2 separate regions of the Homo sapiens genome follow, and region 1 is linked to region 2. Evidence: fine-mapped expression QTL. Tissue or cell type: lymphoblastoid cells. Region 2 holds a variant in brackets; the other region holds the start of a gene. All regions are shown on one strand. Distances are from middle to middle.

Region 1 (2,673 bases), 49 kb before region 2:
GCGAGGGGGGCTGCAGTGATTCTGTGGGGCCAGTGGTGGTGGGGAGACCGGTGATGGGGAGCCCCAGGGGGAGACACCAGCAGAGACTGTCCTGGCACAGGCTGGACAGGCATCCCTGCCCACAAACCAAGCCCCCATGTTTGGTGGGGAGGGAAGGGCCCCCACCCACAGCTGGGCCTGGCCAGGGCAAGCAGAGGCTGTGCACTGCCCCCACCCCACACTTGAGCCCAAACAGCCCCATCTGCTGTAAATAACTGGGCGTTGGAGCCCGCGGGCTGCTCCTTGGGAAGGGGTTAGCCACCATTTGGAGAGACCACGCAGCGCCAGGCTGGGTACGTCCGTGACCAGCAGAGCCGGGTGATGAGTCACCTGCCCAGCGCTCCAGGGCCCTGTCCTGCACGCGCACTCCCCTCCCCGGCGGCAGGGCCAGGGACACGGCGCCCCACCCCCACCCGCTGCCACCGGGGAGAGATGGCCACTGCTCCCCACTCCCCTCCTCAGGCAGGGACGGCGCCATCTTCCCCTCATCCCTGCCCGGCAGGCTGGGCCAGAGCCCCGACGGAGATGCGCTGCCCAGATTAGGAACCCAGAATAGCTCTAGGCACCCCCCTCCCGGACTCTCACAGGGACAGACAGCGGCCGGGAGGTGGGGGTCCCTGTTCCAGCCTGAGGAAGGAGGACCCGGCCCTGCCGAGCCCAGCAAGTGCCAGGTGGAGATGCCCTCGGCCCCGTGGGGGTATAGGGGGCACCCTCCCTCCCCCCCTCCCTGTGACTCAGGACCCTGGGTCACAGCCCTGTCCCATCACAGAGGTCAGTGGAGAAACCCACGCTGCTCCTCGCGGACAGGTGGCTGGGGGAGGGAAAGAGGACAGAAGCCACCCTGGGGTGGGAACACGGGTGGGGGTGGGGAGGCCAGGGCCCCCAGATCTCACCACCTCCCTCAGCGTCCTCTGGCCCAGCGCCCCGAAGCCCGACCCCCATCAGCCCCCGGCCCGCAGGGTCCCCGCGGCCCCAAGGTCACGGCTACGGGGCGATCGCCGCCCAGGACCCGGCCCCGCCGCCCCGCGCCGCCCCCCACCCCGGGCCCAGCCCGGCCGACGCGGGGACCCCCGGAAGCCGGACTCCGGGCGCGCGCGGGGGCGGGTGCGGGGCCCGGCCACCCTCTGCCCCCCAGGACCGGCCCCGGGGGTCCCTCTTCGGAAGACGGGGGCGGGGGCGGAGGCCCGGGGGCCGAGCGTCCTTACCCGGAGCCGAGGTCTCAGCCAGAGGGACTGGCGGCGCCGGCGCCGGCGGTTTTATCTCCGGGAGGGGGTCCACCTATTGACGGTGGCGGCGCAGTGCACCGCGCCCTGCAGCACGCCAATGCGGAACCGCGCGGGAGGGGGCGGGGCGCGGACGCGCGCGGGCGGGCGCCACGGGGACGCGAGGCGATGCGGGAGGCGCGGGCTGCAAAGACGGACGCGGGAGGCGGGGGAGAAACGCGCCGCGGGCGGGGGCGGGGCGGGGGGCAGGGCAGGGAGGCGGCGGGAGGGAGGGACCGGGACGGAGACGGCGCGGGGAGAGCGCGGCGGGCCCGGGAGACGGGGCGAGAGCCGGCTCAGGGCAGGAACACGCTTGAGCCGCGAAAAGCGGTCCCCGGGGACAGGGCAGACGCCGAGGACCGGAGCCGGCAGGCGGGGGAGGGGAGCAGGTGGGCTGCAGCCTGGGAGACGAGCCTGGGTCTACCGGCCCCTCCCCGGCCCTGCTCATGGGGGACGCCCCAGAACCAACGAAGCCCGGCTCTGAGGGGCTCTCCCTAATGAGGCCCGGGGGTGCAGGCCTCAGGGTGGAAATCTGCTGGTTTCCAGTCCCTGTCCTCACGTGCCTGCCCTCCTGGGCGCACCATGACAGGCCCCGAGGATCCAGCGCAGAACCACCCTCCCCCTGAGAGGCTGGTCTCCCACGGTGCAGGGAACGCCGGAAGCCCGCTCCCAGACCCACTGACATCTTCCAGGGACCCTCCCCTCCGGGTGCGCCGACCTCCGGCTGCTGCTGGGAAACAGCGCCAGCCAAGGGCGAGTCAGATCCAGACAGACCCAGGCCCCCCCGCCCAGCGCCCCACCCCGCTGCACCTCAGCGCCTTGTAGCTGATGCTCATATGGGGTCAGGATGCCAAGCCAAAGACCGGGCCACGCTCTGTAGGAAGTGGGGAGTCCCTGAGGTCCTGGCACACGCGGGTAATGACCAACGTGGGTTGTGAGGAAGGGGATGTGGCAGCCATGTGTTGTGTGAAGACCAAGGTTAGGGGCTTTCTCCAGACCCCAAGATCCTGTCGTCTCACCCAGGTATTCAGGTCTTCCCTCCCACGCTGCCCCCCCACCCCCACGCACTCGGATCTTCCTGCCAGCGGGGTCTCGGGAGGTGTGTGCTGAGTGGGGGCAGAGCCCTGGCACCTGTCCTCTCAGCCCTGAGTTCCCACTGGGTGTTGACATGGAGGCCCCGGGTCGGGCCCAGCAGCTGCGACTGGGCAAATCCATGGGGATCCCCAGCGACTGGACCCCTACCTGGCCTGCTGGCAGGTGTGAGGAGGAAGGAAAGGTGGGGGCCCAGGGTCGGGGCCAAACAGTTCTCCCCAGCCTGTGGAGAGGGCCTCTCAGGAGGACCCTGGTCTGTGGCTGCGTCTGCCCCATAGGA
Region 2 (2,673 bases):
CCCCCAGCCCCTGCCCTCCAAGCAGTGACCGATCCATGAACACTGGACTCCCTGTGTGAGGGCGGGAGGGCCTGGCCAGCCAGGCAGGGTCCTGGAGGAACCGCCTGCTGGGTGTCCAGCTGGTGCAGCTGATGCTCCCCCCCACAGGACCTGACCACGCCTGCCGGAGCCTCCTCTCCCTCTCGGCAGCCCACAGCGGACACTGCTGTTTTCCTACCACACCTGCCGGCCCGGGGCCCATCAGCTGTCCCTGAATGAATGCGTGGATGAACGAATGAATGAACAGATAGCCACGGACATGCGATTTCCAACTCAAAATCCTGCCGTTGTTCTGGACTCCCCAGCTGGGGGCGAGGCAGGCTCTGACTCCGAGGCCGAGGTACTCACGGTTGGTCTGAGAGCGTCTCAGGAGAAGCCTTGGCCACGTGGGTGATGGGCACGAGCCCGGCGCTGGGCTGGCCCGAAAGCCTGCGTGCGAAGATGTAGCCGCCCCCCTCTTCGAGGGCACAGAGCCTGTCCCCGCGGCGGACACTCAGCTCCCCGCCACACCGCGCCGTGAAGTCATAGAGCGCAAGGAAGAGCTGAGGGAAGGGGCTGCAAGGCTCGGCGGGGAGCGTGGGCACTGGGTCAGTGTTGGGGTCCAGGGACCCGGGGGTGCCATGGTCCGGCTCGCCGCCCGCCGGCCAGATCTTGTCCCAGAAGAAGGACAGGAAGGCCAGCCGCCTCCTGAGGAACGGCTCCATCCCCCGGGGTCACCACGCTGGGCCCGAGGGCCATGGGAGCCCGCGAGCCCGGAAGAGGAACTGGCAGGGCCGGTGGGACCCGGTGTCCAGCGCTCCCTGCCCTGGCCGTGGGGTGACAGGGGACCCCGGCCCTGCGGTCACTCAGAGGTCCCCTGGATCCAGGAGGCACACGGTTCCCACCGGCGTCCGGGCTGGCGTTGGGGCTGGGTGGGGCGCAGGGCGGACCCCCTGCCTCAGGCACACCGACAGCACCTCCTGTCCTCGACCTCCTTGGCGTCTGGAGTGCACCGTCCCCTCCCCAACCCGACGGCAGAGGGCAGCTTGGGCTGGGGCGGGGGCGGGCTCCAGGAGGGGCCCGAGGAGGGCGGGGTGGGCAGGGCCAGCCTCTCTCCCGCCCTCTGCAAGGCCCAGGCAGGCGGAATGGCTCTGCCCAGTCAGGCCTGGCCCATGCCCAAGGGCACCACAGTCCAACAGCCGCCCGTGCCCACGGAGAAGTGGGGGTTCCACGGAGAAGC[G/A]CTGCTGTTCAGCACCTGCAGTGGTTGCCAAGCCTGAGCTGCACTCAGGTGAAAAATTGCCTGCTTATTTAAGTGTTGGCCAGATATTTTAACATCATTAACCCTGCACCAGGTGCCGAGCCTCCGGCCTCTGCAGTAAATTCTGAGGACAGGCGAGTGAGGGGGCTCTCAGCACCCCGGCTTTCATGCAGTAAAACGAGATGCTGATTGCAGGGAGCTCGGCCGCAGGCCAGGCACCCAGATGCCCCATGCTGCCCGATGACCGGCTTCTGAGTCAGTCAATGCCCAGGCCATACCCAAAGGCCACTGCGGGGAAGTGGAGGCTGCGGACGCCTGGCCCCAGTTCAGGGGGATGAGCACACGGAGAAGGGGCGGCGGGTGAGTCCCTGGCTGGGGACCTCCCACCCTCTCCCTGGACAGCGCCAAGCCCCCGCATGCTGAAGCAAACTCTGCCCGCTCAGGTAGGTCCCCAGATCGGGGCAGGACTGGGGGAGCAAATCCCAGCAAAACCCAGCAGCACGGTACAGGGTCCTGAGGCAGGAGGATGGGGTGGTGGCCATCTGCAGTCTCTCTCTCCTCCCACATCCCCTCCGGGTCCTGAGTGGGGTGGGGTGGGGGCCATCTGCAGTCTCTCACTCCTCCCACCTCCCCTCTGGGTCCTGAGGCACGGGGGTGGGGTGAGGCCATCTGCAGTCTCTCACTCCTCCTGCCGGCCTCCCCCAGCAGCCCCTTCCGCACCTGGGTGGCCTTCAGGGAGCCTCACGCCCCTTTCCCACATCTCACACGCATCCATGCCCCCACTTCATGCGTGTGGCTGAATGCATCCCTCCAATAGGCGTGACCAGTGTCCAGCCAATGACAAGCCCCTCGCACCTGCCTGCCCTGGAGTCACAGATGGGCTTCTCAGAAACCTCACGTCTGGGGACTGGTGTGTGCATTGTGGGGTGGCAGTGACACCCGTGGCCTGGCTCTCAGGGCACCCCAGCAGCCAAGCTGTGTCCGGGCTGATAGCCTGGAGCCAGCAGGGGCCCTGGGAGACTGGACATCGCCAGGCTCAGGGCAGGCTCTGCACCAGAGAGGTGCCCTGCTGGGGGTGGTGGGGGGTGTTGAGAAATGTGGAGAATTGTAAATACTACATTGGGGGTGGCCTTCGAGGGGCCCCAGCGCCTTCTCCTCCCGCGCTTCCCCCCGCCGCCCTCTCCTCCCGCCCCCGCCGCCCTCTCCTCCCCCCACCCGCTGCCCGTCTCCTCCCGCCCCCGACGCCGTCTCCTCCCCACAACCCACCCCCGCCGTCTCCTCCCCTCCACTCCCCCCGCCGCCGTCTCCTCCCCACACCCACCGCCGTCTCCTCACGTGCAGGTGAGGCTTTTGCCCACCATTTCTTTTCTTTACTTTTTTTTTGGAAACAGGGTCTC

Which allele goes with the higher level. Positions count from the first base shown, and alleles are read on the strand shown. Sizes are in standard deviations (SD) of each study's normalised expression.
For the expression in lymphoblastoid cells of the gene that starts at base 1,270 in region 1, allele G in region 2 goes with a lower level than allele A (moderate effect, 0.66 SD a copy in TwinsUK).

Evidence for each region. PIP is the estimated chance that this variant, and not a neighbour inherited with it, causes the effect.
Region 1: it holds the start of EEF1A2, and the variant in region 2 is fine-mapped to the expression of EEF1A2 in lymphoblastoid cells (TwinsUK, PIP 0.92).

Annotation. Positions count from the first base shown.
Region 1 is chr20:63,497,814-63,500,486 of GRCh38, forward strand. It overlaps EEF1A2 (eukaryotic translation elongation factor 1 alpha 2), which reads right to left and starts at 1,270. Exons shown (of 8, transcript NM_001958.5): 1 at 1,245-1,270; 2 at 1-21. It overlaps LOC124904955 (a long non-coding RNA gene), which reads left to right and starts at 469. Exons shown (of 2, transcript XR_007067719.1): 1 at 469-810. RefSeq lists enhancers at 279-1,074, 1,335-1,904.
Region 2 is chr20:63,546,721-63,549,393 of GRCh38, forward strand. SRMS (src-related kinase lacking C-terminal regulatory tyrosine and N-terminal myristylation sites) reads right to left here and starts at 1,029. Exons shown (of 8, transcript NM_080823.4): 1 at 388-1,029. The coding sequence starts at 743. RefSeq lists an enhancer at 102-743. The variant G/A (reference allele first, on the strand shown) is at 1,259.